3 separate regions of the Homo sapiens genome follow, and regions 2 and 3 are each linked to region 1. The links come from fine-mapping of genetic effects on plasma protein levels. Region 1 holds a variant in brackets. A gene starts in each other region. All regions are shown on their reverse strands.

Region 1 (2,853 bases):
GCAGGGCAGGGAGGTACAGTAGATTGGTGCTGCAGCCAGAGGTCTTATATAAATGCTAACAAGGCAAGAATGGGATTTGGGCTGGCAGAGGCCGCAGAGAGCAGAAGCTGCTGCTCTCATTTCCTCGGACAGCAGCACAGTCTCACTTTAATTTGCAGATGTTTTAAGCTCTAGGTGCAGGCACCTGGAGGGCAGAAGGGAAGCAGCTGTCACCTAATGGATGTAATTGATTAAAACTGAAATTCACATGGACTTCTCCAGTTTCAGATATACCACTCTCTGTTTTGTGCACTCCTGTTTCATTCACTCCTTATTCCTGAAGTTTTTGCTAGGAGAGATTCTATGTCAGAAATGACAAAGGACTTCTCAGCCAAATGTGGTACATTCAGAGGTCAGTGCCTGTAAGAATGGACTTCAGAGCAGAGCAGATCAGGTTTAAGTCCTAGCTGTGTTATCGTGAGCACATATAGCTTCTTTAAGCCTCAGTTTTCTCATCTGTAAAATGGGGCTAATGATAATAGCCAGGGTTTCTATAGGGATTAAAACACATAAATAAAGGTTCAGTTCAGGGCTTGGCATATAGAAGATGCTCAGTACATGCTAGCTATTATTATCATTATCATCGTCATCATCATCATTTCTTGGTTACTTCTTTATGTGGTCATGCTAAACAGTGAACTTCAACCAAGAGTGGCTTAGCAGGGAATGTAGGTTACATAGTTGGCTGCACTGTCATAGGCTTTACTTTCTTCTCTTAGAAAACAAAGCATCCTTTGAAGAAGGAATTGCTTTAGTTTCCCATGGGAAGTAATTTCTACAACCCACAAGTAAATGCAGTCTAATGACTAGAATGTGACAGTAGCTATAAAGAATGAAATGTTCCACAAACAGTACTGCCTCCTAAAATTACTCGATCTCAGCACTGTGTTTAGGTCCTCTCTTCCCCACCCATCTTTTTGCATCTACCTCTCATCCTCCCACCCACCCCACTTCTCCCCTATCCCATCCTTTTGGGATCATAAGACCCACCCACCCATCCCCAAATCCCTGAAGAATGTGGGAGTGTCTTGAGGTTCAGGGTAAAGCTGAAAGGCCTAGAGGCAGCTCTGCTTTTTCAGAATGGCCTGGGGGAGGGGGTGGGGTCTTGATGGCAGCAAGAGGCGGTTTGCCAATAGGCAAACCGGTAGACCATGCCTCATGCATTTTCAGGAAAACATCATTTAATCTCAGAACATCTGCAACAGTCTGCAACATATTTTCTCCAGGGTTTGAGTCTAAGCTGACAAAAGATACCGGACACCCCCACAGATTCTGTGACATATCTTGGTATTATTGAACAAACATCAGTTAGGTTCCTGTCTCAG[T/A]GCAGCGTCAGTCTGAATAGGAAATACGCCAGTGCTCTTATCGTTGCTGACAGACTCTGTAACTCACCTGCTGATAGTGTCAGTAACACAGCTTCCAGTTGGGGGAGGCTCTTCTCCCACTTCTTTGAAAGCATTGTTCTCAGGTAGGCAAAATAATTAAGGTGCTTTTTGAGTTTATGCTTACTTTTTCACAGTAAGCAAGAATTCCATGATCAAGGCAATGTACCTTGCAGACACATAATAAATGTCAATGAATTCAACACATTTTGAAACACACCCAGGGCTCATTTTTCCACTGCTTACACTTTCTTTCTGCCCCCTCAATCATCACATCTCCAAGTCTAAAAAAAGTGTCAGATTTAATGCCTTCATTTTATGGATAAAGAGATGAAGGCCACGACATTATAAATTATTTCATTGTAAACATACAGACAAATAGTAGTCAAGCAGAGCCGAAAGCCCTGGATTTAAGATGCATGAATCAGAGCTTTTCCTATCATATCTCACTTAAATGCCATTCATTTCTTTACTTGTTTTGAAAATGAATCTTATCCCTGTATTTGTTCTGTCTTCTAAATTAGAAACCACATACATCACGAGACATCTTTTGTTTGACCCTTGAAGTTTGAAAATATTTTCTGAATTAGTTAACATTTTTCAAAAACGAGGTTTTTCTGAAACATTTGCATTTCTGGCTTCTCTTAAAATGTGGACTATCTGGCAACACTGGGCTTGCATTCTTGCAAGGCAACACTCCGCTGGAGCTGGGAGGCAATTGTCTCCTTCCGATAGGACTTGCACCCTACAGCTTGCTGCAGCGCCTACCACTCCCTGCTGTCTCACATCCAGCCTGCTTTACTCCTTTATCTCCCTTGCTGCTGTAAGCATTTGAACAGGACCAGGACCCTGAGTTGAAAATATGACCAACAATTTCACGGATATTATTGCTCCAATGTAGATAGCATCTGGGGCCTCCCTACTCCTTGGGAGCTGCCTGAAATTCCCCTGAATCCTTAATTCCGTGGCCTGAAAAATATCCAAAGACTTCCCCAGTAGTTGTGTGAATAGTCATGGATTTATATTCTCATGGTTTTCTTTGCCTCTAGCTCCTACGGTTTTGACCCATGACATTTTTAAAGGATCCAGATTCTTCCTTGATCTCCTCCTTTTACCCCAGGCAGTTCGAGATAATGAGTGGATCTGGGGGGTGGGGAGTGTTACGGAGTAAATATTTTAACAGCACTGCTCATAGCAGATATAACTTACAAATTCATCCTCCATGGAGATTTTTCTCCAGCCTTTTGTCCATGCAGGATCCTGCCATTCTTACTCCTTTCCTACTCCAGTGCCCCCACCACCTCTACTTCAAACTTCCCCCTTTAAATAAAGCAGACAAATACAGCCTCCTCTCAAAGGTGCCGTTGCAAACCCATCAAGGTGCTTGAAGAGCAAAGGCCTCTTCCCTGTTAATATTGTCCATGTCTCTTTC
Region 2 (2,853 bases), not on the chromosome of region 1:
ACCATGGTCTCAGCTCCTTGGGAAGCTGAAATAGGAGATCCCTTGAGCCCAGAAATTCAAGGCTACAATGAGTTCTGATCTAACCACTGCACTCCAGTTTGGATGATAGAGTGAGATCCTGCTTCAAATAAAATAAAATATGATATAAAATAAAATAATAAAATATAAAAATTTCCCAATACACATTGGTATAGAAATTTAGCCCATTTCCATTAAAACAGAAATATCAAGCTTTTAACAACATTCTACACCACTAAGTAGAGAAGAGAATGGGCTGTGGATGCTTCTGGGTCTGGTCCTTCCCCACAAAATACATTTTGCCACAGAAAGAGGATTGTGTAGAAGGTTGTTCCATGGTGATTTTTTCCACATAGCTGATTTGGTTTATTGAGAGCTTCCACTTCACATGTTCATAAAGTAAACAGATTCTAGGAGTTACTTGGAGACATGGCAGCAAATGGTTAACCATTTTTTAATGGTAAAATCTGACCTGAGTTTCTGAGTTCTCAACTCTCTTATAACAGACATTTAGAAGTATCCAATTCTTGAACTCAAAATTAACTATAATTTTAAAATGTGCCTATTGTGTAGACATTGATCTGTGATTATACATTTTGTCACATTGATCAATAAAGCTAAATATAAAAATGAAAATGAACAGAAACTATTGAATTATGCACCACAAGGTGCAATCTATATGCCAATATGAGCATGCAGAAATGTCTGCGTGCTATGTATATGCTACTTGTGATTTATTAATTTATACTTCTTTATTTATATAAACTCAATATTTAAGATTATTGTATTTTAGAATCAGAGGAAATCTGAAATTGTTAGTCCACCCCACTTCATTATTGTGCTATGGAAACAAGCCTGGAATGATTGACATCTTCCATAGATGAACAGAACCAAATAATGATAATTTAGCTTGGAGATCAATATTATCTTTAATTTTATACAACCAGAAAATACAAGTAAATACAGCACATCTTTGAATATAGAAATACCAATGAGTTATGGTGTGTTTGGCCATTGAGTTCTGAAAGTCACTGTGGCCTTGTATTTACAAACATTAAAGATAAAATTATTATCCAAAACAGTAATGTCCAATAGATTATTAATAAACATTTTAGATAGCTGTAAAAAACATTGTGTTCTCTAGAGTTCATAAAAATTATGAGCTTAATTTCAATCCAACAGAAATAATTCTGAAAACTCTAATGTTGTGATGCTAATAATTGGGCTAAGAATTTTCAAACTATTGACTGGCAAAAACATGGATAAATTGTAATATATGAACTTCAAAGAATAAATGCACAATTACAAAACTTGATATAGCAATTTATTTTTAAAAGCCATTTGAGGAATCACCAAATAATTTCAAAATCATGACTAGAAAACCAGCAATGAAATTTGAGACTACTGGTATGACAAATCCTGTTTCAGGCCTTGTTGATCTAGAGTTACTTGCACAACCAGAATTTGCCAAAACAGGAAATAGGTGTTTCATATATACGGCTCTAACCTTCTCTCTCTGCACCTTCCTTCTGTCAATAGATGAAACAAATACTTCATCCTGCTCTGGAAACCACTGGTAAGTGATAACTCCTTTATTTCAAGGTGAACATTATTTATTTCAAGGTGAACAACACATTTATACCTTATCAATGATAAAGTGATATATTCGTATATTTTATCTACAATTTTCCAAAGTTTATTGATAACTTTTAATGAGAGTAATTATCTTAATATATTCATTTTAAGCTGAGAAGCTAATACATAGACAGCTTTATTATTCCAAAAGCACTTTTATCCAGTTTGAAATTTAAATAAATTTTTACCTTTCATTCTAAAGTAATATAACTAATTCCCATGTCTATGACTTGTGGAAACAATTGTACTAGAACTATTTTTAATAGAAAAATGAAAAACTATGAATATATGTGTGTGCATACTTTCACATCAGTAACTTTTACTAATATTAAAACATACAGCTATATGGGATGCCATAGCAAAAGTTTTAAATTGGTCAAAACAAAATTATAGCACTGATCTCAAGATTAAAAAGTATTTTATTAAAGACCATCAACATAAAATGCAATTTACCTCATGAAATGCACTCAGATCAAAAACAAAAAAAAAAGGCTTTTAGAAGTTTTTCAGTCAAAAGTCAGTCTACTCAGTCATGTTTATGTAGGTAATTTAAATATAATATCTATCGTGCATATTTCATCTAAGGAAGCAATTTCCACATACGGCTTTATCTTCCGTAGCATATTAGAAGTGATTCTGAAGAGTCAGATAGTAGGAGACCACAGAACTACCTAATGACAACATGAAAGGGGTTATTTACCACTAGACAGAAGATTTTAAAGTAAAATGCTTTTCTTCCCTGTGGCTAAATGCTATCCAGGAAACTCTGGGAGTATTTGCAATAGCCATAGAAGATCCGGTGTTGCCTCTTCTGCTAGTTAAAACCAAATCTAGAATGTCTGCCTGTATGACTAAGACCTCTGAAAGTGGATCAAAAGAAATTAAATTGATGACAAGTTTCAAGCCTGGGAGTTACCCTACATTGATAAGTTATGAGGTAAATTGGGGCTTCTGATTTGTAACAGGCAGGGATGAATTGGGAGGAAGAGTGTCAGAATTCTCAAGTAATGTAAATCTGATAATTGCTATGAATTTCAGTTACGTTATTTATTGAATTCAAGTAAAAGGGAGGGAATTCATCCTTGAAAAAAAAGTGCTTCTCAAGAAATGCAAGACAGCTATTCTTATTTGGATATCTTTACGAATTTCTTACTTGATGAAGTCTAGCAGTTTTGCAAACTTTGCATATTGGCATAGGCT
Region 3 (2,500 bases), not on the chromosome of region 1:
CGACCCCCTAGGCTGCACCCCACCAAGTCTCCCCACCCTGCGGCCCAAGAGCCCTGCTCTAAGCCACTCCGCAGCAGATCCGCTGGGGCGGGGCCTGAGGACCGTGCTAGGTGCTAGCGTGGCCACCTGCCCCTCCAGGCTGCTCAGCAGCTCTGCTCAGGGTGACCCTGCGATGGCTTGCTCCTTCCTGAAGGGGGGGCTCTCTCTGACTCCAGCCCCTGCCGGGAACACCCCACATTTCCTTTTGAAGCAGGTTGGCTCTTTTAAGGCCACCTCCCTGGAAGCCTTCCATGAAGGCACTGGGTGGGGTTCCAGGCTGGATCCAGTGTCCCCTCCTCCCGCTCCCAGGCACCCCTCCTCTCTCCGTCTTGTTTTCTAACGACTGTGCATGTCCATCCCCACCACTGTCTGTGTGTCTGCATGGAAATGTGCTATAAACGTTGCTCTAAGGAACAGAGGAAGGATGAACACAGATGAATTCCGGGCAGAACAGCGAGGTGAACGACAGGATCCCTCAGCTTTGGCCATCCCTTGCCTGTGACGTCAGTCTGACTCTCACACCCCCAGGAGATGTCGGCCCTCACCTAAACAGGACGGAGGTGACATTGTAGCTCTTGTCTTCTTTCAGCTCATAGATGGTGGCATACATCTTTTGCGGGTCTTTGTCTTCTCTGAGAATTGCATTCCCTGCCAGGCCTACCACATACCACTTCCCCTGGAACTGCAAGGGACTGATAAGAGGCACAACCCAGGAATGGCCCTAGGAGCCACCCCTCCAGCTCTGTCCCTGTGGCACCTCTGGGCCGCCCAGCTTGGAACCATGAGCCCCTCTAGCTGGGCAGCAGGGCCCAGGCTGGGCCTGCACTGGTGAAGGGGCAGGAGCAGGAGGCCATCAGTCCAGAAGGGAGTCCTGGGGGAAGAGGCGGTTCTGAGTCTGGCAGGGAGGAGGGTGACCTCCTCACTGGAGGAGGCATGTGGCTGGTGGGCCTTCCTGAGCCTCAGTTTCCTCATCTGTGCAGGGGGACTAAAAGTGCTCCCACCTTCTTTGGACAATGGGGGTTATGGGAGAGGGGATGTGGACCTGGGGGAGTCTGTTCAGGCTGAGAGGGGGTGGGGATGGGGGGAAGGGGCATGGTTTCCACCAGGGGACCCTGGTGGCACAGAGTGAGCTGAAACCTGGACCCTGGACTCCTAGAGTCCTGCCCAACGCTCTTCCTGAGTCTCTTCACCTCTCCTCCCCTCTGCTCCCACTCTTCCCCAGGCCCTGCCTGCAGGTGCCCCTCTTGGCCCCTTACTTGGTTGTCCTGGAAGTTCTGCTGCAGAGGGACCTTGCTCAGAGGTGGGGCTGGGATCAGGTCTGAGGTGGAGTCCTGGGCCTGGGCATGCAGAGCCCCCAACAGGGCTAGGCCCAGCCACAGGAGACCTAGGGGCATGATTTCAGGGCCGAGGAAGCAGGCGCTGTGGTGGCTGCTGGGCCTGGCAGGGGTGGAAGAGGAGGTGGCGAGTGAGAGGCTCACCTGGGTGGCCCTATTTATGGGATCTAGGGTGGGTTGATTCATTCTTTGCCAAGGCCAGGAATGTGAGGCAATTGCCAGCAACTCCTGCGGAAACACTTGGCAAGATTTCTGCACCTGGTCAGGATTGGGCAAGACAGAGGGACGGGGAGAGTGAGGGACATTCCCGGAGTGCTGCACCTCTGGCAGGGACAACGACTCCCTCTGTGCCTTCCTTGTGCTGTTTCTTTCTTCTGATTGCCCTGTATGTGGGCCGGTGGCCTGTGAGCCGGAAGAGCTGTCATCTCTGACCCCCCTGCTCAGCTGGATCCCAGGGTGGGGTATGTGCCCTGTGGTCCCCTCCCCACACCCACAGAAAGGAAAGAATGAATGCCTCCTTCCAACAGATCATGTGCTGTTTCCTGGTTCTTTTAAGGGTCAGGGAAGGGTGGGGTGGCTGACAGTGGACAAGGAAAAACAAGGCGTCTGCTCTGAACTCATGGAGCCCAGAATCATGGCCCTCCCAGGAGCCCCAGTCCAGGACCTGCATGTGCTCCAGGGGCCTTGAGACAGCCCCTTGCCCCTCTCCTTGCCCCATTTGCAGGAGGGGACCCCAGTGGACCCCTGAGGGACCCTTCCTCTCCTGTGAGTGCAGTGGGAAGAGACCCCACACAGGGCACATGGGTTGAGTGCTGAGGCTACAGTCCCTGTCCTGGGTGAGTTGGGCTGATGTGTGGGGGCGTGAAGGCGCCACACTGCTGCTCTGGACACCTGTTGCTTTGGGTCACTGACAGTGCAAGGATCTGGCCTTATCCTTGAGGTCACTGAGACCATCCCCCTGACTCTAGTCACAGCCTTTTTCCATTGAACCCAGCAGCCCAGGCCAGGGGTTCTGGAACTGTCACCGAGATGGCTGGTCCCAGCCTTGTCCAGCAGGGAAGCAGTTATCTCAACGGGGGCCTGGCTGGCATCCTCGGGAGGCAGCGATGGATCGTAGGCCCTGTGCA

Which allele goes with the higher level. Alleles are on the strand shown, and positions count from the first base shown. The strength of an association depends on the size of the effect and on how common the allele is.
For the plasma level of the protein whose gene starts at base 1,537 in region 2, T is the low allele of the variant in region 1 and A is the other (moderate association).
With allele T in place of A in region 1, the plasma level of the protein whose gene starts at base 1,506 in region 3 is lower (weak association).

The links. PIP is the posterior inclusion probability: the model's chance that the variant is causal. Protein levels are from antibody-based Olink assays in UK Biobank. Linkage for the fine-mapping came from a reference panel and not from the study's own genotypes, which makes the PIPs less certain.
Region 2: CRISP3 starts here. The variant in region 1 is fine-mapped to the plasma level of the CRISP3 protein (UK Biobank, PIP above 0.99).
Region 3: it holds the start of LCN2, and the variant in region 1 is fine-mapped to the plasma level of the LCN2 protein (UK Biobank, PIP 0.99).

The regions. Positions count from the first base shown.
Region 1 is chr4:54,541,220-54,544,072 of GRCh38, reverse strand. No RefSeq gene overlaps it. Among named protein-coding and RNA genes, the nearest start is that of LINC02260, 64 kb to the left of the region's middle. RefSeq lists a cis regulatory region at 975-1,586. The variant T/A (reference allele first, on the strand shown) is at 1,365.
Region 2 is chr6:49,743,072-49,745,924 of GRCh38, reverse strand. CRISP3 (cysteine rich secretory protein 3) reads left to right here and starts at 1,537. Exons shown (of 8, transcript NM_006061.4): 1 at 1,537-1,594. The coding sequence starts at 1,558.
Region 3 is chr9:128,148,459-128,150,958 of GRCh38, reverse strand. LCN2 (lipocalin 2) reads right to left here and starts at 1,506. Exons shown (of 7, transcript NM_005564.5): 1 at 1,296-1,506; 2 at 585-721. The coding sequence starts at 1,433. RefSeq lists a silencer at 107-156.